Homo sapiens: one gene and its partners. The gene in region 1 interacts genetically with each later gene. Each region holds a gene or a part of one and is shown in the gene's direction. Other genes may lie near its edges. The genes, in order: FGFR3, CDK6, ERBB2, CDC25A, PRKAR1A, POMC and MAP3K4.

The links.
Region 2: changes in FGFR3 (region 1) and CDK6 together harm fitness more than expected from each alone (negative genetic interaction), as found in Homo sapiens cells (one large-scale study listed by BioGRID).
Region 3: changes in FGFR3 (region 1) and ERBB2 together harm fitness more than expected from each alone (negative genetic interaction), as found in Homo sapiens cells (one large-scale study listed by BioGRID).
Region 4: changes in FGFR3 (region 1) and CDC25A together harm fitness more than expected from each alone (negative genetic interaction), as found in Homo sapiens cells (one large-scale study listed by BioGRID).
Region 5: changes in FGFR3 (region 1) and PRKAR1A together harm fitness more than expected from each alone (negative genetic interaction), as found in Homo sapiens cells (one large-scale study listed by BioGRID).
Region 6: changes in FGFR3 (region 1) and POMC together harm fitness more than expected from each alone (negative genetic interaction), as found in Homo sapiens cells (one large-scale study listed by BioGRID).
Region 7: changes in FGFR3 (region 1) and MAP3K4 together harm fitness more than expected from each alone (negative genetic interaction), as found in Homo sapiens cells (one large-scale study listed by BioGRID).

Annotation. Positions count from the first base shown.
Region 1 is NC_000004.12:1,795,500-1,799,792, forward strand, and holds part of FGFR3 (fibroblast growth factor receptor 3 isoform 1 precursor), read left to right. Parts: intron 1-3,754; coding exon 3,755-4,024; intron 4,025-4,247; coding exon 4,248-4,293.
Region 2 is NC_000007.14:92,724,326-92,728,618, reverse strand, and holds part of CDK6 (cyclin-dependent kinase 6), read left to right. Parts: intron 1-2,825; coding exon 2,826-2,993; intron 2,994-4,293. UniProt on the Homo sapiens protein: Serine/threonine-protein kinase involved in the control of the cell cycle and differentiation; promotes G1/S transition. Phosphorylates pRB/RB1 and NPM1.
Region 3 is NC_000017.11:39,698,164-39,703,140, forward strand, and holds the start of ERBB2 (receptor tyrosine-protein kinase erbB-2 isoform a precursor), read left to right. Parts: upstream 1-1,900; 5' UTR 1,901-2,075; coding exon 2,076-2,148; intron 2,149-4,626; exon of another isoform or gene 4,627-4,751; intron 4,752-4,977. UniProt on the Homo sapiens protein: Protein tyrosine kinase that is part of several cell surface receptor complexes, but that apparently needs a coreceptor for ligand binding. Essential component of a neuregulin-receptor complex, although neuregulins do not interact with it alone.
Region 4 is NC_000003.12:48,167,582-48,171,874, reverse strand, and holds part of CDC25A (M-phase inducer phosphatase 1), read left to right. Parts: intron 1-3,930; coding exon 3,931-4,029; intron 4,030-4,293. UniProt on the Homo sapiens protein: Tyrosine protein phosphatase which functions as a dosage-dependent inducer of mitotic progression. Directly dephosphorylates CDK1 and stimulates its kinase activity. Also dephosphorylates CDK2 in complex with cyclin-E, in vitro.
Region 5 is NC_000017.11:68,518,357-68,522,649, forward strand, and holds part of PRKAR1A (cAMP-dependent protein kinase type I-alpha regulatory subunit), read left to right. Parts: intron 1-4,293. UniProt on the Homo sapiens protein: Regulatory subunit of the cAMP-dependent protein kinases involved in cAMP signaling in cells.
Region 6 is NC_000002.12:25,159,964-25,163,367, reverse strand, and holds the end of POMC (pro-opiomelanocortin preproprotein), read left to right. Parts: intron 1-1,615; coding exon 1,616-2,287; 3' UTR 2,288-2,508; downstream 2,509-3,404.
Region 7 is NC_000006.12:161,088,723-161,093,015, forward strand, and holds part of MAP3K4 (mitogen-activated protein kinase kinase kinase 4), read left to right. Parts: intron 1-599; coding exon 600-749; intron 750-2,656; coding exon 2,657-2,818; intron 2,819-3,287; coding exon 3,288-3,421; intron 3,422-4,255; coding exon 4,256-4,293. UniProt on the Homo sapiens protein: Component of a protein kinase signal transduction cascade. Activates the CSBP2, P38 and JNK MAPK pathways, but not the ERK pathway. Specifically phosphorylates and activates MAP2K4 and MAP2K6.

The DNA of each region.
Region 1 (4,293 bases):
TTAATCCGGTTCCTTAACAAGATGGGCCGGGCAGTAAAAATACAAAGACCTCGTGAAATGGACTGAGGTCTAGGCTGGCGCTTGCCCGGGAACATAAATTATGGAGCCTTGGCTCGCAGGGGTCAAGGGCGGTGGGAAAGGTTTTGGCCACTGGACTGCCCTGGCCACCCCAGGCCCTGCCAGGACAGCCCCCATCTCCCCAGGGGGCCGTATTCCTGGTTGGGACCTGGAGTGACCCCCCAGGGTGCAGGGAGGTACACAAGGTCGGCTCTCCCACAGTCCCACCCCACCCAGCAGGGGTCTGGGGGTGCAGGGCCTTTCCCGAAGGTGCTGGCTGCAACCTCCCCCACTCCTCCTCTGCAGGGCTGGACTTTGAGCCGCGTGGGCCTCTGGGTGGTTCATTAACCTGGGCTGAGCCTGGCCTCCAGGTCCTTGTGTGAGCCTAGGAACCCCTTGTTACCCACCCCCCAGCTCCCCAGCCCTCAGGTCTCACTTGGGGCTAGATCTGGGGCTGTGGCACCCCTTGTTACAGCTGAGCTTGAGTGGGAGCCCAGGGGCTTGGGGTCTCCTGGAGGACGGGGATCTAAAGTCACCTCATCTAGGGAGGCATGCAGCCCTCACCTGAGTGATTCAGGAGTGAATGAGCCAGGAGTGGAGCCACCTTTGGTGGGGTAGGGGTCAGCCTGGACCTCTAGGCTGCCAGCTCAGGCTCGGGTGCCCTCTTCGAACCTCAGTTTCCTTACCTGTCCAAGAGAACCGATAATGGCAGGCTGTTTGAAGGATTAGGCCAGATAACCCTGGCAAGCCCTCTTTAGCCTGCCCAGCCTCCAGATCCCTTTTTTCCGGACTTTATTGTGAAACTCCAGGTGGGGAGACAGGGAGGCTGGACTTTTGGGGGCCCCCTCCTCTTAGGCTATTTTATAGCTCCTACCTGGCAATACCTCCTGTACCCCAGAGAGCTGCAGAGAACTTCATGTGCATCCGAAACCAGAATGTGTTGTTTCCTGACCCCAGGCCCTCATCTCACCCCAAAACCCAAATAAACCCCTGGGGCAGCCAGCTCCGGAAGCGAGTCTGGATTTGATCCTTGTTCTCTGGGGTCAACCCGAGGGGCTTATGATGGAGCAAGGCTCCCCCATCCTCTCAGCCATGCTCCCTCACATGCACTGGGCCTCCACTGCAGAGACCCAGAGCCTGGAGAAAGGTTCCCCAGGCCAGAGTTTGGCCGTCCCCAGCACCCTGCCTAATGGACATCAGTCTTGGGGCCAGAGACCCAGGGCAGGGAGCGCCTCTCACCCCTACCCTCACTCCTGCAGCCATTTCAGGGCCTGGTGCCCTCCCTGAGCTCCTGGGCCTGTGGGGTGGGATTTTTACTTTGTGCCACAGTGGGGGAAACTGAGGTACAGGACCAGTGAGTGGCAGAGTTGTGGAGACTCTGGGACACAGCAGAGGGCTGTCGTTGGCATGTGGAGCCCAAGTTGAGGTCGGCACTGTGTGGGGTTGGGGCGCCGGCAGGAGCACGTGTTGTGGGATCCATAGAAGGGTGGGAGGTGGGACGCGTTGCCTCCTACCCCGCCTTGGGTACAGCAGGAGTTTTGTCTCCAACGTGTTTGGGCACCAGTGTCTGTGTGGTGTCAGTGGGGCCTCCCTTTTGTGGATCAAGAAAGAAAGAACCCTTCCTAGGGCTGCTGGGGGGCTATAGCTCTCCCCATGCCTGGCAGCTGGGTGGGGTATGGGGGCTCCACCCAACTGCTGACTTCCCAGTGGGAGTCAGACCCTGAACTTATAGCACCCACTCATGCCCCGTGTCACACTGTCCTTCACCTGGTGCTCGCCACCCAGCCCCTGCTGGGGTACCCTGGCCTCTGCTGGCACCTAGCAGGCAGGCAGTGGGGGGGGCAGTCAGGGCTGCACCCTCCCCACCACACACGGGCAGATGGCCACTGGTGTGGCTGGCCTGGGGCTGCTGTGTCCCCCGTCCCCCCGTGCTGGACCAGGCTGAAGCAAATACTTGTGTGGATGGCTTGACCTGTTGTCGCCACTCAGACCAAACCGGAACCAACCGGCTGTTGCCCTTGGGCCAGGGCCTGCAGCTGAGGCTGCCATAACCAGCCTGTTCTCGGCCTTCTGGGGGGCCTCGAGCAGCTCCCAGCTCTGGGTGGTCCCCACAAGACACTGGCCAGGACCGGAGGGCTGGAGGTCAGGCCAGGAGCCCCCCTGACTGCGGGGTCCCTACAGGGGCAGTCCTTGAGCTGTGGGTCCCGGTGGGGCGAGGGCTCCTTCGGATGCTTCAGGGGATGAGTGTGGGCCCTTCTGGCTGGCAGGGTCACCCTGGGCACTAGGCGTGTGTGGCTGGATCAGGTGGGTTGGGCAGAAGAGGGCCTGGCCGGGCAGCCAGGGACTGGTGTGGCCAGAGTGGGCAGCTGGGCCCCCGAATCTAGGCCACGCGTCTGCAGAATGACAAGTGATGGCGCAACCCGCCCAGCTGGGTCTGAAGAAGGAGGCTGCCTGGGGGACCACCCACCCCCGTCCCGGCCCCAAGCCCGGGACGCCTGCCTGCATGCATTGTCTGGCCCTGGCAGGGAAGCCTAGGGGCGATTGTCCCCCCAGCCCTGCCCATGGTGTGTCCTTGGGTCACAGGCTTTGGTGGCTCTGGGGAGCTGGGCAGCTACTGGGGAGGGACCCAGGGGCCACCTGCACATCTGCCCCTGTGGGTGGGCCCCCACCCCAGCTTCTCAGCCCCCAGGGAGGGGCCAGGGCTGCTGACCTGCCCTGGCTCTCACAGCTTCCTGCCCCCAGCCTGGTCGTCCTCTGTGAGGGGGCCCCAGTCCCCCTGCAGGCAGCAGGACTCCACCCCCCGGCCCCCTTGAGGGCCCGCCTGGGCCTCCCCACTCCCCGGCCTGTGAGACCCACTTGGCCGGACCCAGCGCCGTGTTTGTACTTTGCTCTTCTCGGTATGTTTTCCGTCATGACCGCCGTGTGGAGCTTCCATAGGAGCTGCAGGATACAGAACCTTGCCCACCCCAAGGAGCCCCCACCCCCGCCCCGGCCCCCTCGCGCTGCTCCGGCCTGTGCTCTGACCGGTGAACCCGCGCATCGCCCCCCAGACCGTCCACACGGCCACGTGACCCTGCACCTCCTTCCTTCTCGCCTGTTCTGTTCCCTGGCTGTCCATCTGAACTGCTTTTCAGGCTCATATGGGGTGCGGGGGCTACTGAGGACGGACCCCTCCTGGGGTGAATCTGCACCACGAGGGGGCTGGCTGGCCAACCCTGGCACCCCCTCTGAGCTCCATTTCAGTCAGAGGCCAGCAAAGGGCAGCCTGTCCCCTTTGCCCGCAGCACCTGCCCGTCGTGGTGCCGCCTGTGAGACAAGCATGGATTTTATGTTTCCAAGCAATTGAACAAATTAAAAGAACGAAGAGTCACATTTTGTGACACTTTGAGATTTGAATTCTCCGTGTCCATGAGTGAAGCATCATGGGGCCACTGCTGTGGGGTTGGCTGCAGGTTGTGTGGGGAAGGCGGCTGTCACACCGAGGCAGACCGGAGTCCTTGGGACAGACTGGTTGGCAAAGCTGAAGATAGAGACCTTTGGCCCTTTTGGGACACAGTTTCCAGCCCCTGGTCTGGTGGGACCCTGGATCTGGGTCAGAGCCTTCCTCACTCAGGGCCGCCGAGGCTTCCACTGCTGTGTCTGTAAACGGTGCCGGGTTTGGGGGTGCCTGCCTCATGGTTGCCCATCTTCCCCACAGAAGTCCCGGGCCCAGAGCCCGGCCAGCAGGAGCAGTTGGTCTTCGGCAGCGGGGATGCTGTGGAGCTGAGCTGTCCCCCGCCCGGGGGTGGTCCCATGGGGCCCACTGTCTGGGTCAAGGATGGCACAGGGCTGGTGCCCTCGGAGCGTGTCCTGGTGGGGCCCCAGCGGCTGCAGGTGCTGAATGCCTCCCACGAGGACTCCGGGGCCTACAGCTGCCGGCAGCGGCTCACGCAGCGCGTACTGTGCCACTTCAGTGTGCGGGTGACAGGTGAGCTCTGGGGCCACGCCAGCTACAGAAAGGAGCCGAGTGCCGGGCTCCCTGAGTCCCTGCGTGGGTCAGGAGCGGCTGGGGGTCTCTCTGGTCATTGGTGGAGAGGAGGGCACCCCCAGGAAGTGCTGCCCAAATGGGGGACCCTGCCCCATCTGGGAGGGGCACCTGGGGGCCTCCTGGGGCAGGTTGGGCATTGGTTGCGGCCATCTCTGCCTTGCAGACGCTCCATCCTCGGGAGATGACGAAGACGGGGAGGACGAGGCTGA
Region 2 (4,293 bases), on another chromosome or scaffold:
GCCCTTTTAATCTACTCTACCTTTAAACAAACAAGAACTAGACCTGTAGTATAAGTGCCAAAGTAACACAACTAAAACTGAATAATAATAATTATGGCATGTCCCAGGGTGAAAAACCATGCAGCCATTAAAAATCTCATTGTATAAAAAAAGTCATATTGCAGAATTTTATTAGTGGCAAAATGTTGATAATGAATTGTTACATGTTTTTAAAAGAGCTACAAAATAATGTGTACAGAATAATAACCACTTTTACTTAAATATACTTATACATCCAAATATAATAAAATACGTAATTTTTAAAAGACAGACTAAAAAGACACAAAAAAAGTTATATTAACAGTGAAGTTTTCTCTGTTCTCCAAGTAGTGGAATTTTTTAGTGATTTTTCTTCTTCTCTGGATTCTTAAAACATTTTATTAGTTTCTGCATTAAGCATGCATCTATACATCTTAGCAATTTTATAATTAAGAAAAACATAGTGTGTGTTATAACACAAATAAAAACGATGTGCATGTTTTTAAATTTGTATACTGCTAATTGGCTGCTAAAGTTGTTTGAACACTGCAGCATGAACCAAACAGATTTATTCTTTATACTGTTTTAAATGAGTGACACTTAACTGTATAGAGGCTAAAGATGATGAGCCAACAGGACATTACTTTAGGTTAGTCATGCTTTTTAAAATTCAGTGCTTACAAGTTGTGTGCATGTGTTTCCAATAAAGACTTATTTGCCAAAATGTTCCTTGAACATTTTGTGCTACATTTTCACACTCCTGTTTATTCATTACAACTTATTGGACCTGCAGTGCTTCTCAAGTCTTGAAGGGCTTTTCCTCCCCAATGCAGTCTTCTCCAGGGTTTTGGGAAGCTTAGAAGGTCACCCCTGCCAGTTCAGAATATTCACTCAGGGGGATCTCAGAAATGATTCTAGATCACTGCATACCCCCTCTAAGTGCTTTGTTCACACCGACCTTGTAGCAGTGGTCATGTTTTCTTTTAGTTGTTTGTGAATCAGTCTCCCCCAGAAATCAGGACACTTATCTTGGCAATAATCATCCTAATAATTACTGTTTGTCAAGTGCTTACCATATGCCAGAAACTGTACAAGCACTTGGCATACATTACTTCATTTAGCCCCCTTAATAGTAGGAAAAGTAATCGCTACTTTCTCCACTTTATAAAAGGAAAAACTAAGGCTTTGGTTTTGAACAAGCTAAAATATAAAGACAGAACTCCGAACTCTAAAGGAAGAACCAAAACCATAAACCAGTAACCAAATATACTGTTCTCGATGAGAGGATTCAGTGGTCCGGCCAATGATAAGTGTATCCTCACAGCCCCTTCCAGCTCTGAAATCCATGGTGGTACCCAGTCATTTTTCTAACCCTTGTATTAACAAAACAGCTCCATCCTCCCTTGTATACACCATTCTTATAATATTTGGGTCAGGGGAGTAGGTCACTCTTAATTTCCACACATTTCAGAGGATTATGACATCATGGCCAATGTCTTAGTTCCTACCTTCAGACACTGTCCCTGAGTATTAAATCTTGTGTATATTTGTATTGGTCCTAAAATTAGAAAAAGATCTGATATTGGTTTATATCCTGAATGATCCGCTCCTCCATACTGGTTAATAATAACAGTAATAAGCGCTGCCATTTACTGAATATTAACTATGGTGCTAAGTGCTTTACAATGATCCTATGATAAAGTGGGCTTTGTTACTGTCCCATTTTACAGACAGGGAAACTAAGCCTTAGAGAGGTTAAATGGCTTGCCTTATTTTACGTATTCATTTGTTCATTGATTTGATAAAGGAATACATTGGAGATTTGAATCGAGGTTTTCCAGACCCTAGTTTAAATCAAGACTCTGTTAATATTCTAAAACAGTTGATTAAGACTGGGCATGGTGGCTCACACCTGTAATCCCAGCACTTTGGGAGGCTGAGGCAGGAGAATAGCTTGAGCCCAAGAGTTTGAGACCAGCCTGGGCAACATAGTGAGATCGCATCTCTGCAAAAACTAAAAACATTAGCCTAGCATGGTGGCATGCACCTGTGGTCCCAGCTACTTGGGAGGCTGAGGCAGGAGGATCTCTTGAGCCAAGGAAGTCAAGTCTGCAGGGAGCCGTGATCACAGCACTGCACTCCAGCCTGGGCAACAGAGCAAGATCCTGTTTAAAAAAAAACAAACAGTTAATCAGCACTCTCTTGCTAGTATGACTTTGGGCTAATTAGTAGCCTACATCTGTGTATCAGTTTCTTGACCTGTAAAATGGTGTAATGATATTATTTACCTAAATGTTGTGGTGTGGATTAAATTATTTACTAAGTGGACAATGCTTAGAATAGTGCTTGATATATAGTGAGTGTTTAGTACTAGGTGCTATAAAATAATAATCACCATTAATAACAATATTATTATTCACTGGATTTTAATTGTTGAAATGGCACATTAAACAATAGAGAAGCAAAAAGTGTCCCCTCACGACCTCCTCCTTCCTCTCCCCAGCATGAGCCACTGAAACCAGTTTGGCAGATATCCTTCCAGAATGTTTCCTATTCCATCAAAAACTATTTTAAAATTGTCCTTTCATTAATAAAATACAGGTTGAGAGTGAAATTTTTTGCAGTGTTCTTGAAAGTGTGGGAGTGGAAAGGCAGGAAGGGAGACAATTCACTCATTCAGCCAATACCTGTCAAATGCCTGCCGCATGCCAAGCAGCCACAAAATGCTAAGGATTCGGCGTCCAGCATAGCAAATGCTCAACTTCCGTTTTGAGTGTTTACTGATTTTCTTTTTTTAATTTTATTAGGATATGATGTTTCAGCTTCTCCGAGGTCTGGACTTTCTTCATTCACACCGAGTAGTGCATCGCGATCTAAAACCACAGAACATTCTGGTGACCAGCAGCGGACAAATAAAACTCGCTGACTTCGGCCTTGCCCGCATCTATAGTTTCCAGATGGCTCTAACCTCAGTGGTGAGTGAGAGAGTGCTGTCCTTTTATTAAACTTATTTTTCCTATTTTGAATGACAGTCTGTCCCTCTTCCATGTCTCTAATGTTAGTACTGCCCATGACTAGTTGGTGGATAGAATGTCTTTGCCCATTTTTATATGGCAGTGGGTAGGCAGAAAGCATTCTGCTTACAGCTACAGTCACATCCAGCCTGGGCTTGTTGTGGACAGGATCCATTGCAGAAATAGCCTGTTGCATCTTAGCCACTGGACAGGAATCAGTTACAAGTTTCCAAATGCTTTCTGCCATAACCACTGTTTTCAGAGCTGTATGTACAATGCCTAGGGAACACACAGCTCAAGGTCAGGGAAGAAAGAGCACGAGCAACGTTGACCTGTCTGCAGCATCATGGTTTTGAGAAACAGAGTGCCTACACAGGTTTGTTAATGCACTCATCTGAAGCTATGGTGCCAGCTGTAAAGAAGAAATCAAATTCACAGTGAACTTGGATGATGCATGAACGTAGAGCACCGCCATGCCAGGTGAAGGCTCATATAACCCTGAATAGAAAGAGCGAACCCAACGGCCCTGTTTTGGCAAAAAATAACAGTTATGATACCCTGTTTCTTTTTGCCATTCAGCTGCAAAACCATAATAGCTATTGACATTGGTTAGCTTCTATTTCTCCATATAGTTCATTATTTCTCAGATGGATTTTTGTGAAATTCTGCACCCCAAATACAAAAAGAGCAGCCTGGAAATAGGTATTAATACCCTTCTCTTTGAAAGACCTGTTTTGCATACAGTAAATTCATGCCTTACGTACAGTAAATTAAATAAATAATATATAGCAAATTAAGTCTTAAGAAAAAGAATTTTAAAAAAGAAAATATCTTTGTATATTCAAAGAAATAAAAAAAAATAATCCGTATTGTCCATCTTTAGCCTCAAAGTGGTTCTCACATCAGGGACAGCATGGCCCTGTTGTTAAGTAATGATTGGCAACATCTTTGGTCATTCTGCACAGCAAAAAATTGTTTCCCTAAATTTCAGTAATACTACAGCTGATAAGTAGAAATTCAAGAGAGGAGTTAGAAATTCTCTGAGACAGATAACTTGCCTTAGGAAAAAATCCAATTTATAAAAGTGTTCCCCACCCCCTGCCCCCAGTCAAAATAGGGGTGCTACCACCTAGACACGTAAGACCAGTTACTTTCCAAACATTATAGACTTTTCCTAGGGCATCAGAACTTTTGATGCAGAGGATTCCTTGGAAAATGTTGCCATTGTTAGAAGATAAATCCTACTCATTTCCTCTTTGCC
Region 3 (4,977 bases), on another chromosome or scaffold:
AGTATGTCAGATGCTGTTTTACAGATGAGCCAACTGAGACCAGAGATGCTCAGTCACTTGCCCAAGGTGACATGACTGATATGGAATAGAGTCAAGATTTTTTTTTTTTTTTTTGACACGGAGTCTCACTCTGTCTCCCAGGCTGGAGTGCAGAGGCGCAATCTCAGCTCACTGCAAGCTCTGCCTCCCAGGTTCACGCCATTCTCCTGCCTCAGCCTCCTGAGTAGCTGGGACTACAGGCACCCGCCACCACACCTGGCTAATTTTTTGTATTTTTAGCAGAGACAGGGTTTCACCGTGTTAGCCAGGATGGTCTCGATCTCCTGACCTCGTGATCTGCCTGCCTCGGCCTCCCAAAGTGCTGGAATTACAGGTGTGAGCCACCGCGACTGGCCAGATTCAAGATTTGAACCCAGGTCCTCTTGGTCCCAGAGGCCCCTGTTTCTCAACTCCCTAGGATGGCATAGCAACCTGTCCCACAAGAGGTGCCTGCTTTAAGTGTGCTCAGCACATGGAAGCAAGTTTAGAAATGCAAGTGTATACCTGTAAAGAGGTGTGGGAGATGGGGGGGAGGGAAGAGAGAAAGAGATGCTGGTGTCCTTCATTCTCCAGTCCCTGATAGGTGCCTTTGATCCCTTCTTGACCAGTATAGCTGCATTCTTGGCTGGGGCATTCCAACTAGAACTGCCAAATTTAGCACATAAAAATAAGGAGGCCCAGTTAAATTTGAATTTCAGATAAACAATGAATAATTTGTTAGTATAAATATGTCCCATGCAATATCTTGTTGAAATTAAAAAAAAAAAAAAAAGTCTTCCTTCCATCCCCACCCCTACCACTAGGCCTAAGGAATAGGGTCAGGGGCTCCAAATAGAATGTGGTTGAGAAGTGGAATTAAGCAGGCTAATAGAAGGCAAGGGGCAAAGAAGAAACCTTGAATGCATTGGGTGCTGGGTGCCTCCTTAAATAAGCAAGAAGGGTGCATTTTGAAGAATTGAGATAGAAGTCTTTTTGGGCTGGGTGCAGTTGCTCGTGGTTGTAATTCCAGCACTTTGGGAGGCTGAGGCGGGAGGATCACCTGAGGTTGGGAGTTCAAGACCAGCCTCACCAACGTGGAGAAACCCTGTCTTTACTAAAAATACAAAAAATTAGCTGGTCATGGTGGCACATGCCTGTAATCCCAGCTGCTCGGGAGGCTGAGGCAGGAGAATCACTTGAACCAGGGAGGCAGAGGTTGTGGTGAGCAGAGATCGCGCCATTGCTCTCCAGCCTGGGCAACAAGAGCAAAAGTTCGTTTAAAAAAAAAAAAAAGTCCTTTCGATGTGACTGTCTCCTCCCAAATTTGTAGACCCTCTTAAGATCATGCTTTTCAGATACTTCAAAGATTCCAGAAGATATGCCCCGGGGGTCCTGGAAGCCACAAGGTAAACACAACACATCCCCCTCCTTGACTATCAATTTTACTAGAGGATGTGGTGGGAAAACCATTATTTGATATTAAAACAAATAGGCTTGGGATGGAGTAGGATGCAAGCTCCCCAGGAAAGTTTAAGATAAAACCTGAGACTTAAAAGGGTGTTAAGAGTGGCAGCCTAGGGAATTTATCCCGGACTCCGGGGGAGGGGGCAGAGTCACCAGCCTCTGCATTTAGGGATTCTCCGAGGAAAAGTGTGAGAACGGCTGCAGGCAACCCAGGCGTCCCGGCGCTAGGAGGGACGCACCCAGGCCTGCGCGAAGAGAGGGAGAAAGTGAAGCTGGGAGTTGCCACTCCCAGACTTGTTGGAATGCAGTTGGAGGGGGCGAGCTGGGAGCGCGCTTGCTCCCAATCACAGGAGAAGGAGGAGGTGGAGGAGGAGGGCTGCTTGAGGAAGTATAAGAATGAAGTTGTGAAGCTGAGATTCCCCTCCATTGGGACCGGAGAAACCAGGGGAGCCCCCCGGGCAGCCGCGCGCCCCTTCCCACGGGGCCCTTTACTGCGCCGCGCGCCCGGCCCCCACCCCTCGCAGCACCCCGCGCCCCGCGCCCTCCCAGCCGGGTCCAGCCGGAGCCATGGGGCCGGAGCCGCAGTGAGCACCATGGAGCTGGCGGCCTTGTGCCGCTGGGGGCTCCTCCTCGCCCTCTTGCCCCCCGGAGCCGCGAGCACCCAAGGTGGGTCTGGTGTGGGGAGGGGACGGAGCAGCGGCGGGACCCTGCCCTGTGGATGCCCCGCCGAGGTCCCGCGGCCGGCGGGGCCAGAGGGGCCCGGACGAGCTCTCCTATCCCGAAGTTGTGGACAGTCGAGACGCTCAGGGCAGCCGGGCCCTGGGGCCCTCGGGCGGGAGGGGGCAGTTACACGGCAGCGGCTCGAGATGGCCCATCCAAGAGACTGGCGCTTTCCAGGCTCCGAGGGGCTCCGGGAACTTGTCAAAGAAGTTCTCTGAAATTGTTCAGAAAGTTTTCCCGCAAAGGGTGTATTGCGTAGAGCGCGCGCGCGCGTTTCCCCCCTTCTTGAGCCCCCTCAAGCTTTCTCAAAGCCTTTCCAGTTGGCAGCCTCCGCCTCCGGACTGGCCTGGGCTGGATTCCTTGGGGGGGTCCTCTGCCCTGCCCCTCCTCCAGCCCCTCCCCGCTCCCCTTCAGACGATTTTGGTTTGGTTGCTCCTGCTTCTGGCGGGGTCGGGTGTGTGTGTGTGTGGTGGAGTGGAGGGTGGCATAGCAACCTGTCCCAACCAGAGCCGGGGAGGAAAGGGTGGCCCGGAGGGTGGCCTCTTGCTGGGGTCTGGGTTGGGGGCGGGGGAGACGTTTGCTTTGAACAGATTCTTGGGGCCAGCTTAGGGACTGTGCTCTGTGACTTTTGGAGCGCGTGGACCATGGAGGGGTGGGGGTGGGTTTCTTGGGGTGTAAAGTGGGAGAGTTCCCAGAGAAGGAAGCTAAGAAATAAGGCCAGATGGGAGCCTAGGGAGGGCTGCGTTGTTCTGCTGCCTTTTCCTTGGTGCTGTGCGTGGGGAAGGGTGAGTGGGGGCAGTGTGTATCCTGACCCATCTGTCCACCTGTGTGCATTAATCATAAAAGCTAACATATAGCCTGGGCCAGGTATACTCTGCCAGGAACTGTTTGTGGTGTTTTGCATGCATTCTCCTTTAATCCTAGAACACCCCTATAGTGGAAGTTCTGCCAGCATTCTGGACTGAGTAGCAGTCCAGAGGTTGAGTAGCAGCTAGTAAGTGGTGGGGTCAAGATGGGACCCCAGGCAGTGCGACCCCCAACCATGCATTCGAAATCGCTATATGGATGAGTGCACCTGGAGCAATGAGGGACACTGCTCCCTGAGTCACTGGGCTGCAGGGGAGACAAAATGAAAGTGTTCTGGGAGTCGTGGGTGGTCTCCATAGGTCAGAGGGTCTGGGGAGGGAGTGGGTGTCATCGTGGCTGTGTGTTGCCCGAGGGGCCCTCTGTGAGTGAGTGCATGGCCGTGTTATCTCTGCAGGTCTACGCCAGGGTGTTCCTCAGTTGTGTGGTCTTTGTATTTGTGTGTCTGGGCTTTGTGTTGCCAAACAGCAGTCTCTCTGCTGACTTGGGGACACAGGCTGAACTCTGTCCTCTGCAGGAACTCCCTTAAGGTGCTGGGCCAGATCTGCCATAAACAGAGGGAGGTAGCCTTCTATGGCCACGCCTTCTTGCTGAGGAAGAAGGTTCCTCTCTTCCAGGGAGTACATCCTTGCCCTCCCTGTTTCCCAGACAAGCATCTTCACCTCTCATCTTCTGATGAGAAGGGTGAGGCCATACTGAGCTGTCAGGCTGAGCTGCTGCCCTTCCTCACCTTGGGCTGGGAGTTGATCAGGGAATGGCAGTTGCTGCAGAGCTGGATTTGAGGGCTGGGTTCTCTGGATGGGGCCTCCTCATGTCCTCACCCCTCAACCTGCACTATTGATTGTGTTGTGCAGGAGTTAGTTAAAAAGTCATTGCACAGCCTGGGCAACAAGGCAAAACTCTGTACAAAAAATACAAAAATTAGTTGGATGTGATTACACGTGCCTGTAGTCCCAGCTACTCCGGAGGCTGAGGCAGGAGGATCACCTGAGCCCAGGAAGTTGAGGCTTGCAGTGAGCTGTGATTGCAAATGCTCTCCAGCCTGGGTGACAGTGTGAGACTCCGTTTCAGAAAAAAAGTATACCACCCAGCTGCCTCCAGCACCCAGATTTTACCCAAGGGGTGAGGTCTGGGGCAGGAATGTGGGGGAAGGGGAGGCCTAGGGGGAGCCCCAGAGGGGTCAGGATTTTTCTGAAATCCTTTCTTAGAGGTATGGGTTTTACAAATTGCAGCAAATACATCCTTTTAATCTTGCAGAACTCCTTCATATTTTAATTCCAGTATGATTCTTCCAACAGCCTCCTCTCTTTACTATACTTGGGGAAAGTACTCATTTTATTTGTCAAGAAAAAAACAATTGAAAAGATAGGGATCAAATGTAAAAAGAAAAAATACGTGGCATTCCAAAGTCAAACACAAAGCATGTTTAATTTTCTCGTGGTTTGGGATTACCCATATTCCTGCTGTATGAACCTGTCTTGTCTTAACTTTTAAGAAATGTACGGTGTACTTCCTATATGCTAGGTTTTTATCCATGCTTTCATTTAATCTCTGTGACAGTCCTGTGAAGTAGGTGCACAGATGAGAAAATGGAAGTTCAGAGAAATGAAGCAACTTATCCAAGGCTCCCAGCTACCCAGTAATGTCCAGGGAATTTTTGGACTCTGAAGAGGAGGCATTAAGAGGTGGTTAGAGTCTTATTCCAGCCAACAATAATGGGTTGAACAAAGCCTTAGGGGCAGGCAGGTGGCCAGATGGGAGGAGAAGCGCTCCTCTTGTTCAGGCGAATGACCTTTCCATCCACTTCTCTAGGCTGTAGAAAGTGGAGCTGAGCTGGGGGCCCTGAGGTTCCCTCTTGACTTCAGAGTCCTCTCCCTTCCTGTCCAGCCAATGCCTGTCTTCCTTTTGGGC
Region 4 (4,293 bases), on another chromosome or scaffold:
CGATAGTGTTTTGACTTACAAGTATACTAGAAATAATTGAATAAATCACCTTCTGGACATTTAGAATTTCCCTTCCCCTGATTTTCCTTTTATTTCTAATTAAAAATGAAATTCTGGGTTATAAGGGCAAGAACATTTGTGAAACTTTACATTGTATACATGTCAGAAAATATCTATCAATATTTAATAATATTCTGGCTGAGTGCTGTGGTTCACTCCTGTAATCCCAGCACTTTGGGAGGACAAGGCGGGTGGATCACGAGGTCAGGAGTTCCATACCAGCCTGGCCAATATGGTGAAACCCTGTCTCTACTGAAAATACAAAAAATAGCTGGGTGTGGTGGTATGAGCCTGTAATCCCAGCTGCTCAGGAGGCTGAGGCAGGAGAATCGCTTGAACCCGGGAAATGGAGGTTGCAGTGAGCAGAGATCACGCCACTGCACTCCAGCCTGGGTGATAGAGTGAGATTTCATCTCAAAAAAAAAAAAAAAAGAATATTCATTTTCTTTTTCTTTCTTTTTGAGACACGCTGGAGTGCAGTGGCAGGATCTTGGCTCACGGCAACCTCCGCCTCCCCAGTTCAAGCAAGTCTCTGCCTCAGCCTCCTGAGTAGCTGGGATTACAGGTGCCCACTGCCACGCCTGGCTAATTTTTTTTGTATTTTTAGTAGAGGCGGAGTTTCACCAAGTTGGCCAGGCTGGTCTTGAACTCCTGACCTCAGGTGATATATCCGCCTTGGCCTCCCAAAGTGCTGGGGTTACAGGTGTGAGCCACTGTGCCCGGCCAGAATATTCATTTTCTTTTACCGTAATAGAGATTGACCTTTTTATTTCCATATTTGTAAAACTTTTTTTGGATAAAATAATACTGTTAATAATTATTTTGTATATATATTGGCCCTCATGTTTTGGTTTATTTTCATATATTTTAATTTTTAGTATTTTAAATTCCATTGTGGAGAAAATGTCAAGCATTGCTAGAGTACAGTTATCATACCTGTGATATTGTGAAATATATATTTAGTCTTCTTCCCCTTCTGTCATATAACTCCTAAAATCTTTGGAATATCCAAGGTCATATCTTTTTGTATACTAATGATTGATAGCTTCAGGGTGGGACTGGTCACTGGAAAGACAGAGACATGATTAGAGGTTGGAACTTTCAGCCCCACCCTCCAATATCTACGGAAAGGAGAGGGGCTAAAGGTCAAGTTGATCACTCATGGCCAATGGTTTAATCAATCATTTCTATGTAATGAAGCCTCCCTAAAACCTTGAAAGGACAGGGTTCAGAGAGCTTCTGGATAGCTGAACACATGGAGGTTCCTGGAGGTTGGGGCACCCAAGGAGAGCATGGCAGCTCCATGTCCCTTCTCCCATACCTCACCCTATGCATGTCTTCTTCTATATCCTTTGAATATCCTTCATAATAAACTGGTAAATGTGTTTTCTTGAGTTCTGTGAGCCACTTCTAGCAAATTAAACCCAAAGAAGGGGTCATGGGAACCCCTACTTAAAGCTGGTGGTCGTAGATCAGAAGATCCAGAGGCCCAACTGGTGTCTGAAGGGTGGTGTGGTTTTGAGGACTGGGCCCTCAACTTCCTGATCTGACGCTCTGCAGGTAGATAGTGTCAGAATTGAATTGGACGGCACCCAGCTATTTTCCACTGCAGAACTGCTTGCTTGCTTGCTTGCTTGCTGGTAGGGAGAAATCCCCTCATATCTGGGGGTAACAGCACTTCTGTCTTCTGTTGCTGTTGAGTGAGGGAATAAGAAAAATCACTTTGAGTTTGTGGGGTGTTTTCCTCACACAAACATATCATACAGGGCTAAATTTCTGGGTGTTTTTTTGTTTGTTTTTTTTTTTGAGACCAAGTCTCGCTCTGTCGCCCAGACTGGAGTGCCATGGGTCGATCTCTGCTCACTGCAACCTCCGCCTCTCAGGTTCCAGCAATTCTCCCGCCTCAGCCTCCCAAGTAGCTGGGACTACAGGCGCCCACCACCACGCCTGGCTAATTTTTTATATTTTTAGTAGAGACGGGGTTTCACCATGTTGGCAAGGCTGGTCTCGAACCCCTGACATCAAGTGATCCACTCACCTCGGCCTCCCAAAGTGCTGGGATTACAGGCATGAGCCACCACGCCCGGCAGAGCTAAATTTCTTACTATCAAATGTCAAATATCCAGTCTGGGTTCAGTTTTCCCCAGTTGTCTCCTAAGTACTTTTACAGTTTATTTGTTAAAATCTGGATCCAAATAAAGTCTATACACTGTAGTTGGTCAATAGGTCTCTTACTCTTCAGATTTCAGTGCTCCATCTGTTTCCCTCTTGCATATTTTTATTTGTTGAAGAGCTCAAGTCATTTGTCCTGCAAAGGTTCCCACAGTCCTGTGGGGTCTTCAGACATTGTCTTCTATCCCCTATATTGCCTTAACCTAACTCTGGAAAGGATGGATTGAATTCCAGTTCTATTTGTTTGGCAAGAATATCACATAGGTGATTTTGTCTACTTTGATCAGGAAGTATAATGTGCCAGGCAGCCATTGGTGATTGCTGCCCAGATTTTTTACTTCATTTCACCAGGGTTTCAGAAAGATGATACTGCAGTTTTTACATTCTTTCCTCATTAATTAGCTAGAATATATCTATAAAGAGAAACTTACACTCATCAAACACTGTGGTTACCCTTGGGAAAGGCAGGATGAATATTGGATCTCTTTATTTGCCAGTTTCCAAATAATGCCCTACCAAGCATCTTCCAAAGTTGAAAGCAAGACTTATAGTTGTTTTTCAATAATAATCAGGAATTCATGGGTTAAAACATTTAATGTGTTTCTGTGTATTACAAGTATTATCCTTTTACTCAAATTATCCCCTTTTTAACAGCTGGCTTCCTCTTCTCATTGAATAAAGCTAAGACGTAGGCCGGGCGCGGTGGCTCACACCTGTAATCCCAGCACTTTGGGAGGCCAAGGCAGGCAGATCACCTGAGGCCAGGAGTTCAAGACCATCTGGCCAACATGGTGAAACCCCGTCTCTACTAAAAATACAAAAATTAGCTGGGCGTGGTGGCGCACACCTATAGTCTCAGCTGCTCTGGAGGCTGCGGCAGAATCGCTTGAACCTGGGAGGCAGAGGTTACAGTGAGCCAAGATCACTGTACTCCAGCCTGCACTCCACTCCTGTACTCCACTGCACTCCAGCCTGAGCGACAGAGCGAGACTCTGTCTTTTTAAAAAAAAAAAAAAAAAAAAGTTAAGACATACTTTTTCTAAACTTAATCCTAGTTTTAACCCCCCTTGTTTCTTTCTCTTTTTCTGGAGATAGTTTCAGTCTGTCACCCAGGCTGGAGTGCAGTGGCACCATCACCACTTGCTGTAGCCTCGACCTCCCCAGGCTCAGGTGATCCTCCCACTTCAGCCTCCCAAGTAGCTGGGACTACAGGCACACACCACCATGCCCAGCTTGTGTGTGTGTGTGTGTGTGTGTGTGTGTGTGTGTGTGTGTGTGTGTGGACAGGGTCTTGCTCTTTGATCTGGTCTGGAACTCCTGGGCTCAAGCGATTCACCTGCCTTGCCCAGGCTGGTCTGGAACTCCTGGGCTCAAGTGAGTAACCCACCTTGGCCTCCCAAAGTGCTGGGATTACAGGCATGAGCCAAACCACCTGCACCCCCTTTTTTTTTTTTTTTTTTTAAGGAAGGAAGGAAAACTTAGTTTCAGAGCAATTCGGTTAGACACTGGAATAATAGGAGACCTAGTCAATAACCCACATCTGTTTTTGTTCACTCCAGATTCAATAAAATAAAATAAAAACTTCTTACTAAATGTAGGCATTAACATTTTAGTCTCCTCGAGACATGCTCCAAGTGAATGTTTTCGGAAGTTCCATTCAGAACCCTTGTCTCATTCTCTACCTTTGATTTGTTACAGACTCTTCATCAGTCTTTATCCCTGGCATCTTCCCCCAAAGGAACCATTGAGAACATTTTGGACAATGACCCAAGGGACCTTATAGGAGACTTCTCCAAGGTAATTGCAAGCAGAGCTGCTCTGGCAAGTGTAGGAGGGAGTGTGGGTATTTAGAATCCCACTCAGCCTGTCTCCCTCCCCAGGGTGGTTCCTGGCATACCTCCAAAAGGACACAGTTAAAAGAATGTTAAAGGTAGGGAAGCAAACTTAGTTTCTCATGATCAGGTATATGTTGGTTTCTGAGACTGTAGATATCACTATAGCTGATGGGCAGTTTTAGGTAGGGAGCTGTCCACCAACCACCTTGATTGTAACCCAAAGACT
Region 5 (4,293 bases), on another chromosome or scaffold:
GCAAACTTCTGTCTGGGCATCCAGGCATTTCTGTACATCTTCTGAAATCTAGGGGGAGGTTCCCAAACCTCAGTTCTTGACTTCTGTGCACCCACAGGCCCAGCACCACTTGTAAGCCACCAGGGCTTGGGGCTTGCACTCTCTGAAGTAATGGCCAGAGCTGTACCTTTTAGCCAAGACTGGAGCTGAAGCAGCTGGAACGCAGGGTACCATGTCCTGAGGCTGCATAGTACAGGAGCCCCAGGGCATGGCCTAGGAAACCATTTTCCCCTCCTAGGCCTCTGGGCCTATGATGGGAGGGGCTGTCCTGAAGGTCTGTGACATGCCCTGGAGACATTTTCCCCATTGTCTTGGTGATTAACATTTGGCTCCTTGTTACTTATGTGAATTTCTGCGGCAGGCTTGAATTTCTCCCCAGAAAATGGGATTTTCTTTTCTATTGCTTTGTCAGGCTGCAAATTTTTCAAGCTCTGCTTCCTCTTGAATGCTTTCCTGCTTAGAAATTTCTTCCACCGGATACCCTAAATCATTTCTCTCAAGTTCAAAGTTCCACAGATTTCTAGGGCAGGGCCAAAATACTGCCAGTCTCTTTGCATAGCGAGAGTCACCTTTACTCCAGTTCTCAAGTTCCTCATCTCCATCTGAGACCACCTTAGCCTGGACTTCATTGTCCATATTACTATCAGCATTTTGGTCAAAGCCGTACAAGAAATCTCTAGGAAGTTCCAAACTTTCCCACATTTTCCTGTCTTCTTCTGAGCCCTCCAGACTGTTCCACCCTCTTCCTGTTACCCAGTTCCAAAGTTGCTTCTGCATTTTTGGGTATCCTTGTAACAGCACCCCACGCTCTGTGTACCATTTTACTGTATTAGTCTGTTCTCATGCTGCTAATAAAAGACATACCCAAGACTGGGTAATTTATAAAGGAAAGTGGTTTGACTCACAGTTCCTCATGGCTGGGCAGGCCTCGGGAAGCTACAATCATGGCAGAAGGGGAAGCAAACACATTCTTCTTCACATGGCAGCAGCAAGGAGAAGGGTCAAGCAAAAGGGGGAAAAGCCCCTCAAAACTGTCAGATGTCATGAGAGCTCACTATCACCAGAACAGCATGGAGGTAACCACCCCTGTGATTAAATTACCTCCCACCAGGTCCCTCCCACAATATGTGGGGATTATGGGAACTATAATTCAAGATGAGATTTGGGTGGGGACACAGCCAAACCATATCAGTCTGAAAATACAGTCATATTCTCATCACCTTCTTCGTCATTACTGGGGGGTTGTGTTTCTGTTACCTTCAACTACTCCATAAGAAATGTACCAAAAACTCTTGACAGTTGGTCTTTTGAAAGCTTCTGCATTTTAATTCAGTCATCTGGAATTTGAGTCTTCTTTTACTCTTGTATTTATTAGACCCTTAGGTAAGAGGAATTAAAATAACAGTGACCTTGTGTCTGCTGTGTCAGGTACTGTGTGAAGCACTTTATATACATAAATACTCGTTATTTCAAATGTACGAGGTATGTGATTTTCAGCATTTTATAGACATAGCAGTAAAACTGAGAGAAATTAAGTAATGTGGCTGTGGTTATAGACTGTAGTCGTCAGCTTTTGCTGGAGCAACATACAACCCCCAAATTTCAGTGGTTACTACAACAGACCAGTCATGTGCAGTTCTTCTGGTATCAGCCTGTCTTATGTTCTTGACACCACATATCTTGTTCTGGGGCTGAGCAGAAGGAGCAGCCCTATATAGGGCATGCTGTTCTCAAAGCAGAGGGAGGGCAGAAGCTCAAGGTGGACAGAGCCAAACCACACAGGCAACCATGGTATGGCATGTCCACTTACATTCCATGGCCAGAGCAAGTCCTGTAGCCAAGCCTTAAGTCAGTGGGGTGGGAAGTATACTTTACCCACAGGGAAGAGTGACAGAAGCAGGGAGGGAACAAATAATCGGGAAAACATAGTAGTGGGGACAGAATTTGAACCTAAGAGTCAAGAAGATAGTGCAGAATTTAATGCAAAACCGAATGCAGAATTTGAACCTCAGAGTCAAGAACATAATTAACCACTGAGTAGACTGGGAGGTTTTTTCTAATTTTTAATTTTTTATTGATATATAACATTTGTATGTTTTTATGGAGTACATGTGATATTTTACAGGCATAGAATGTGTAATGATCACGTCAAGGTATTTAGGTTATTCATCACCTCACTTAAAGAGCTGAGGAGGAAGGAGACTGACAGAAGGATGACAACAGCAAGAGAAAGGATATAAAAATATATCATAGTATATACTAGAAAACTCATGATCTGAGTAATGGCTCTGAGTTGTCAGATTAGGTTATATTCAGATTGCTGTTTTTAAAAGACTCACTAGAATCCATGAGACACTGCTAAAATCAGAATGCTTTTGTTACTTCAAAATTAATCTTAAAAATTCAGTGAAGTAGAATGTAGTCCCAAGTGAAATGTTATTTGTGAAATTTTTCCTGAAATTTTTGTGAAATGTCAGTGACAAATTTGGGGGTGGGAGAATTTGTGTTTTCATTTATACTCTTAAACTGTGTGTGTGTTTTATTTTATTTTTATTATTATTTTTTTGAGACAGTCTTGCTCTGTCACCCAGGCTGGACTGCAGTGGTGCAATCTCGGCTCACTGCAACCTCTGCCTCCTGGGTTCAGGCGATTCTCCTGCCTCTGCCTCCTGAGTAGCTGGGGCTACAGGTGCCTGCCACCACACCTGGCTAATTTTTGTATTTTTAGTAGAGATGGGGTTTCACCATAATGGCCAGTCTGGTCTTGAACTCCTGACCTTGTGGTCTGCCCACCTTGGCCTCCCGAAGTGTTGGGATTACAGGTGTGAGCCACCATGCCTGGCCTATTTTTTGAGACAGGATCTCACTCTGTTGCCCAGGCCTGAGTGCAGTGGTGCGATCATGGCTCACTGCAGTCTCTACCTTCCAGGCTCAGGTGATCCTCCTGCCTCAGCTTCCCAAGTAGCTGGGACTACAGGTGTGTGCCACCACGCCCAACTAATTTTTATGTGTTTTTGTAGAGATGAGGTTTTACAATGTTGCCTAGGCGGGTCTCGAACTCCTGGACTCAAGTGATCTGCCACCTTCGGCCTCCCAAAGGGTTGTGATTATAGGCGTAAGCCACTGTACCCAGTCATGTATTCTTAAACTTTAAACTTGGGAGAGACTTGAGTTTTATACCTGTGTTAATATGAAATGAGAAAACCTTACTGGTTATTGGAACAACCAGAATTAACATGAAATGAGTTTTCTAAAAACCATATTTTAAAAAGTAGGTTACATATTCACATATTTCAAAGTTGTGCAGGTACAAAGGGGCATAATAATGAAAGGTCTCCCTCCCACGCCATTGCTTTTCTTGAATGCTGCCAATGTTCTGGAGATTAATATATGGGCACTTACAAATTTATATATAGAAAAGAAATAACGGGTCAAATGAATGAGAAAGTAGAAGATAACACATTTTTATTTTTTCCCTTTTACTTCAGGCACAACAACTAATTCTTTAGATCTGAGAGGAATTTGTTTTTAAGGCTCTAGATGTGAAAAAAGGAATGTTTAATAGTTTATCTTAGGTTTTATTTGAATTGGTCCAATAAGTAGTTTTTAAAAGCAAGTAAACTCTTTTTGTCTTTTAACTTCAAGTTTAAACCTTGATTACAAAGAGTGATCCTAGCTCTGCTGGGAGAAGTATTATAGATACGATCTCGTTTAAATTCGTGGTTACCATCACATCATTTCATTATTTGTTTTTATCTGGGATCAAACTGGAATGTGAATTCCACAGGCTCAGGACCCTCTCCTATTTGTTTTTAATTTCCTGTTGCCTAGCATAGGTCTTGGCCTGGCAGATCCAGAAAATGGCTTATTGAGTTAATGAAATAACTCAGTAATCTAGACATTCTTGGATCACTATGTTGGGCTTGAATTGTTTTTCCTGATAACATTTCTTTTGGCAGGAGGGTCTCTTGCTATCTGCAGTAGCATCCAAAAAAACCCAATTTTCAGGATTTTGTCTTGCAGTGTGTTACTGTTGTGTGCATCACAGATAATTGTTGTCAAGACATTAATGAATATCTGATTTGTTACTCACATGTTATGTGAGTACTAATGGCTTGTACTAATGACTTTTGCCCATTAATAAAGGATAGCATCTGTTATCATCTGAGGTACATTCTGTTGAGAGTGTTTCAAGTGTTACTCTCTTTTTTTCCCCTTTGGAATTGGTGTTTTCCTCTTAACTTACATTGTTAA
Region 6 (3,404 bases), on another chromosome or scaffold:
CCCACAGCACAGCTCACCAGGGAGGGTGCACTGGACACAGTCAGGACCCATGGGTTCTAGACCCAGTTTTGAGGTGTGGGACCTTGACCAGGTCCTATCACCTCTCTGAGTCTCCTGTTTCACTATCTGTCCACGGGAGGGGAGTGTAAATTAGTTTTTTCCATTGTTAACGTTCCACAGAGTTGTAATTCTGAACACCTGGAGTAGGCAATGTCCAGCTCAACAGAGTGGGTAGGATCCTTTTATTTTCTCCTTTGCTATTCCCAAGAAAGAGAGCAGCCAGTGAGCTTTTCATCTTTTTATCACTGAAAACTCAAGGCTGCAGCCTATGCAGCCATTTTCCTAAGCTAATATGTACCACAATAGAGTCCTCTAGGGACAAGGAGCAGAGACACAGGTTCCACAGACGGTGCAATGGAAATAACGCTAGCTTTCCACCCCTCCCTCCAGTCAGAATGAGATTACAGGGAAATAAGCTTGCCCCAGAGCTCACTGGGGGATCTCTCAGAAATCAGCTCAGAAGTCGTGAAAGAACCAAGGTGCAGTTTTGGAGGCTTAGTGCAGAGATGGAGCTGGGGTAGGGCATAAAGTAGGTTTTTCATCACTGAGGTAAGGTTGAGGCATTATTTTTTATTTTTTGTTTATTTATTTATTTTTTTGAGACGGAGTCTCGCTCTATCACCCAGGCTGGAGTGCAGTGGCGCGATCTCCCCTCACTGCAAGCTCCACCTCCCAGGTTCACACAGGTTGAGGCATTATTAAAAATATGTTTAAAAATATGGGCCCTAGTAGCCAGACTTCTATCACCTGGAGAGATTATCCCCCAAATTTCAGCCCCACTCCCCTCCTGGACTTGAATTAAACCATATGTATTTATTCAATATTCTTTTTATTTATTTATTTATTTTTTTGAGACGGAGTCTTGCTCTGTTGCCCTGGCTGGAGTGTGGAGTGCAGTGGTGTGATCTTGGCTCACTGCAACCTCTACCTCCCAGGTTCAAGCGGTTCTCCTGCCTCAGGCTCCAGAGTAGCTGGGATTACAGGCGCCCGCCACCACACCCAGCTTATTTATTTATTTATACTAGAGATGGTATTTCACCATAGTTGGCCAGGCTGGTCTTGAACTCCTGACCTCATGTGATCTGCCTGCCTTGGCCTCCCAAAGTGCTGGGATTATAGGTGTGAGCCACCGTGCCCGGCCCTCAATATTCATTAAGTGCCAACAACTACCACCCGTCTGCCTTTCTTGGAGCCACTCCTTTATGTCAGGCATATAACAGTAAGACTTTGGTCCTGTTCACAAAAGCTAGGGGTGGCTAGATGGCTAGACAAACCATGGAATGGGATGGGAAGTGTGTTGCAGTTGCCAGGCAGAAGCATGAAGGGGATGGGACAAAAGAGGCAGTGGCAAGATCTTAGATGCCCACGAGTGCCAAGAAAGCAGGTGGGCAGACCTGCTCTGTAGGGAGGCCTCGACGCTTGACACGCCCGACACTGTGCCCTGTGTCCTCGGCACGTGGCGAGGGCGGCCAGGGCCTAGGCGCAGTGACGGGCGCGGCAGCCGGGCCGGGGTGCGGGGCACGGGCTGCCCTCATGCCCTCGCGTCTTCCCCCAGGAGTGCATCCGGGCCTGCAAGCCCGACCTCTCGGCCGAGACTCCCATGTTCCCGGGAAATGGCGACGAGCAGCCTCTGACCGAGAACCCCCGGAAGTACGTCATGGGCCACTTCCGCTGGGACCGATTCGGCCGCCGCAACAGCAGCAGCAGCGGCAGCAGCGGCGCAGGGCAGAAGCGCGAGGACGTCTCAGCGGGCGAAGACTGCGGCCCGCTGCCTGAGGGCGGCCCCGAGCCCCGCAGCGATGGTGCCAAGCCGGGCCCGCGCGAGGGCAAGCGCTCCTACTCCATGGAGCACTTCCGCTGGGGCAAGCCGGTGGGCAAGAAGCGGCGCCCAGTGAAGGTGTACCCTAACGGCGCCGAGGACGAGTCGGCCGAGGCCTTCCCCCTGGAGTTCAAGAGGGAGCTGACTGGCCAGCGACTCCGGGAGGGAGATGGCCCCGACGGCCCTGCCGATGACGGCGCAGGGGCCCAGGCCGACCTGGAGCACAGCCTGCTGGTGGCGGCCGAGAAGAAGGACGAGGGCCCCTACAGGATGGAGCACTTCCGCTGGGGCAGCCCGCCCAAGGACAAGCGCTACGGCGGTTTCATGACCTCCGAGAAGAGCCAGACGCCCCTGGTGACGCTGTTCAAAAACGCCATCATCAAGAACGCCTACAAGAAGGGCGAGTGAGGGCACAGCGGGGCCCCAGGGCTACCCTCCCCCAGGAGGTCGACCCCAAAGCCCCTTGCTCTCCCCTGCCCTGCTGCCGCCTCCCAGCCTGGGGGGTCGTGGCAGATAATCAGCCTCTTAAAGCTGCCTGTAGTTAGGAAATAAAACCTTTCAAATTTCACATCCACCTCTGACTTTGAATGTAAACTGTGTGAATAAAGTAAAAATACGTAGCCGTCAAATAACAGCAGCATGGATCGGAGGAGCACAGTGGTTTCCATGCGGTAGGATATTTCACAGGACTTAGTGAGCGTGAAAGGAAAATGTGCTTCCTGCCCCCACCCCCAAATGGATCTTCGAGGGATCAGATAGTTTGGGTGAAGGCACAGGGTGGCTCCAGCACCTCTAGGATGGCCGTATTTTCCACACACTCCACTGAGTGGGAGACTGCTCAGCTAGCACACGTGTAAAGGCAGGATTCCTGCAAGAGTGACCCCGGGCGCTCAGGGGCTCCCCGGCTCCGGTCCACCTCCAAAAGCCAGTTGGACAGGTTGAGGCCTACCCACGCCTGGGAGTGCTCTGGACTGTCAGGTGAGAAGTCTTGGTAATGTCTCCGGGGAACTGCTCGTAGCAATCCATGGGACCTTAGGCAAGTCTCTGAACTTCTCCAAAATTTAGTTCTTTCATCTACCCCTCCCTTCCCAGTATGAGGGTTATTGTGAAGATTAAAGGAGAAAATGGACATAATCTTCTTTTTATCATAGAAGCTAAGTGTGAGAGCTGAGGGTTAGTATCAGTTCCAATTTCACTCCCAGGCTACTCACAGATACGCTCAGACATACGGTCTCTCTCACACACACACACTCATGGAGACACACATCTGTTTAATACAACATACTCTACGCAGTTGCTTCTTCCAGCCCCTAGGGCTTAAGCCCTGACTCAGGCCCTCTGACCCCTCCTGCCGTGCCCAGGCTCCTCCCTCCCCGCGTGTTTCAGCTCCAGCCCTTCTCATCCTTAGTACTTCCCCCAGGCCTCTCTGATAACAGCTTCCCAACCAACTGGTCTCCTAGTTTCCAGCTGCTCTCCCCAGCCCATCATATACGAATTCTTCACGTTAGTTTACACAAAATCTTGC
Region 7 (4,293 bases), on another chromosome or scaffold:
TCCCTCTCCTGAACTATTGCAGTTTCTGACTTTGAGTTTCCCTGCTTCAAACCTCACCTTCTGTCTCTCCAATTCTGTGTTTGTTTTTGTGCTTCTAGAATGATCATTATAATACATCTGATTGCATCACAGATCTACTTAAAATACTGCAAAGATTCTTCATCTCTTAAGAACAAAAGTAATAAAGTCTTGATTTCTTAATGTTTTATATAAGGCCCCTCATCTTATTTCTGTCTTATTCCTACATTTTCCTTCTTCATATGCTGCTCCAATACACACACACATGCACACATACACACACACACTCACACACACTCTGCACTGGCAGTACTGAACTACTTGAAGTTCTAGGATATCTCAAAGATGTCATGCCTGCAGTCCCAAAGGGTTCTTCTCCGTGGTGCTGAATATCCCAGCTGTCAATGCCCACTGAAGCGTGTTGCTGTGTAGGAGAAGCTTTGCTTAAAAATGACTTTCTGATTAGATGGTTGTTGGCCTGGTATCCCTGAGATTGGCATTGTTTTTGGACTGGTGTTGAACTAGAATAACAACTAGTAACTGGGTTGGTTTTTATGTCCTGTGCTTGATTTTCCTCCCAGGTGGATAATCTTTTACTAGTTGTCATGCAGTCTGCGCATCTCACAATTCAGAGAAAAGCTTTCCAGCAGTCCATTGAGGGACTTATGACTCTGTGCCAGGAGCAGACATCCAGTCAGCCGGTCATCGCCAAAGCTTTGCAGCAGCTGAAGGTATTACACTGTCCTCTACATTAGCTGAGATTTTTCCTTTTTGATGAAAGTCAGTGTGTGGTAATGTGTGTAAGGTAATATCATCCAAGGAACTTGAGCTCCTGAATTGCCTGCCCACTCACCTCTCTTCCCAATACATATTTTCTTATGTCTAAACTACATATTCTGAGATTCTTCCTGAAGCTGTAGAACTTTATAATTGGAAAGGATAGAGAATTGAACTTTATGTGACTTATTCATAATGGCTACATGACTGGTTAGTGGCAAAGTTGAAAATTTAATAATTTAGGTCTCTTCATTCCCAGTGTAAATTTCATTCTCCTTTCACAATCCCCAGTATTTACTAGAGGTACTCCATATCAGCAGTGTGTAATAGAAGATTTATTTATTGTTTTGTTTAATAAATAATTCAACCAAATTAAATATAATAGAAAAAAGTTGCAGAGAAGTACAAAGGCCTTTCAAAGTTTATGACAAGCCCCAGCCTGGCTGTCTTTTTCCATTATTTCCTGTTTTTGACACTTTCTATTTTGTATCCCATGTATCAGTCTTGATCTCATCCACACTTTTCCAGGCCATCAGTTATGTCTTCTCACTCACATTAAGGCTTAACTTCTTGAAGAAGAAACATTCTCTGAAGTTACAAGTCATTTCGTAAACACTTGTTTTTCTTCTGTTGGTCTGATTTGTCTGATTTATCTATAAACATTTATTAACTAAATATTTAGGTTATCTCTCTCTATGGATTGCTGGAAGAATATTTTGTAACCATAGTAAGGGGATTGCCTGATGGAGACCTTGTGTGCACTCGTGTGTAAGGGTGGGTAGAGAGAGAGACCGATTTGGAGCTATTGTGATGTTGCTGACAGAGGTGACAAAAGCTCGAGCCAGGGCAGGGCTTCTCAGCCTCTTGGATGTGGACGTTTGGGCCCGTAACTCTTGGTCGTGGAGGGCCGTCCTGCGCATTGTAGGATGTTTAGAGCTAGGGCAGGGCTTCTCAGCCTCTTGGATGTGGACGTTTGGGCCCGTAACTCTTGGTCGTGGAGGGCTGTCCTGCGCATTGTAGGATGTTTAGAGCCAGGGCAGGGCTTCTCAGCCTCTTGGATGTGGACGTTTGGGCCCGTAACTCTTGGTCATGGAGGGCCGTCCTGCGCATTGTAGGATGTTTAGAGCCAGGGCAGGGCTTCTCAGCCTCTTGGATGTGGACGTTTGGGCCCGTAATTCTTGGTCGTGGAGGGCCGCCCTGCGCATTGTAGGATGTTTAGAGCCAGGGCAGGGCTTCTCAGCCTCTTGGATGTGGACGTTTGGGCCCGTAACTCTTGGTCGTGGAGGGCCGTCCTGCGCATTGTAGGATGTTTAGCAGCATCCCTGGCCTCTACTCACCATATCCCAGTACTTCCACTTTTTCCTCCAAATTTTGACCATCAAAAACTTCTCTGGACAACGTCTCCAGACGCTGAGGGGAGGGGGAGAAATCTGCCCCAGAAGAGAACCCCTGGACTAGGGAGTAGCAGGGAAATGAGGACAGCACGATCGGAGGAGGTCATCTAGAAGTACATGGACTTTTTCACTCTGTGGAATTGCACCCGTACTTATGGTTGAGCAACCGTCCAGGAGGAGAAAACAACAGGTGGTTGATGTATAAAAATATTGAAGATAAAAGCATCTATTCCAAGAGCAGATTATAACTAGACTGTATCATTTTAAATGCATTTTTTTCTCTTCTATTTAAGAATGCCAAATAAAATGACATAATTTCTTCTATATTTGGTAATTCCTTTACCAAGTGGCTGAATTGTTTGTAGTGGTTAATGTCTGTGTGATGATGAACGAAATCTTCCTTTAAAATGTGGTAAGTATTGTATGATTTGCTTCATTTTGCATTAATCATGGTTTGGACTCTTCAGAATGATGCATTGGAGCTATGCAACAGGATAAGCAATGCCATTGACCGCGTGGACCACATGTTCACATCAGAATTTGATGCTGAGGTTGATGAATCTGAATCTGTCACCTTGCAACAGTACTACCGAGAAGCAATGATTCAGGGGTACAATTTTGGATTTGAGGTAGGTTCAAAATAAGAGGAAACACGGTACAATTTAGTAATTGCTTGATAACTTACAGAAAGTTTTTGGAACCTTTTACAGTAAATCTGATATTGTAATCATAGCTTAATCAAGAATATCATCTTATATCACTGCTGTATATCAGAGATGTTAGTTTACTTTTAAACTGTTAGGTAATTGTCCAACTTTTATTTTGTGCTAACAGCCATCTACTTACATTTTAAAACTTTAAAGAGATGTTTTATGTCATAAAAGCACATTCTTAATTTAAACTCAGGAGTAAAACATTTATGAAACTGCATTTTGAAACACTGTACTTTCCATAATTCTTCATACTATTCAAAATATAGAAATTTTAATTGGATTTCACTTTTTGTTTTTAGAAAACATTTTAGACATGGCATTATAGTGTGTGATATTATTTAATGATCATTTCCTTAATGTTGATATACATGAAATCTTCTTACAGTATCATAAAGAAGTTGTTCGTTTGATGTCTGGGGAGTTTAGACAGAAGATAGGAGACAAATATATAAGCTTTGCCCGGAAGTGGATGAATTATGTCCTGACTAAATGTGAGAGTGGTAGAGGTACAAGACCCAGGTAATGACCAAGTAGGATGTTTCTGAAATGTGTCATGTGGGCTTGGTGGTATTTGTTCATATATGTTCTGTGGGATTCTTTTTGAGCAGACGACACAGAAGGGAACACTCTAAACTCTTCGGTGATCAGGTTTTTTTTAATGGAAAAATATGTAGAGAAAACTGCGTAACTCTTGGGAAAAAATTTTTTTTTAAATTTGTTCCAAATTTGAGTTACCTTTAAGGGAACTCATGTTCTCCTTTGACAAGTCTTCCTGATGACTAATGTATTTTCCTCCCTCATGAAATTTATTCATTAAGAAACCATTTTGGAATTTGCAGGGGTGAAATGGGTGAATCGTCTGTGAGGCTCAATACTAGCTCCACTAAAGTAAACATAGTTATTAAAGTGTCATGACTGTGTGAGAAATAGCTGAGTGTTCTGTAATTTGTAATGGAGGGATAGCATGGGGCACTTTCTTAAAGTCATTAAGCAATTTCTCCAAGTTAGAGAAAACACATTTGCTGCATCTGAGATTCAAAGTAGGAACTTTGTGTTACAAAACTCATAAATACTTGTTGAATTACAAATAAATAATTGTTGAATTACAGATGGCACCTATCATGTCTAAAATCCTCTTCCATGCTTCCCATTGGTTTCAAAACAAAATTAAATTTTAAAAAATTATTCTCCTTTCCAAAAGGTCACGCTGTAAACTTACTGAACCCAAGCAAAAAAAAGTGTCTTGTCCTAAATAGTAATTATAATTATGTTACTTTTCAGTATTGTACAGTCTAAAACTGCTACAGCGTTTTCTTGGTTGTTATGTGATTACTGAACTTTTTCGTGTACCAGGTGGGCGACTCAAGGATTTGATTTTCTACAAGCAATTG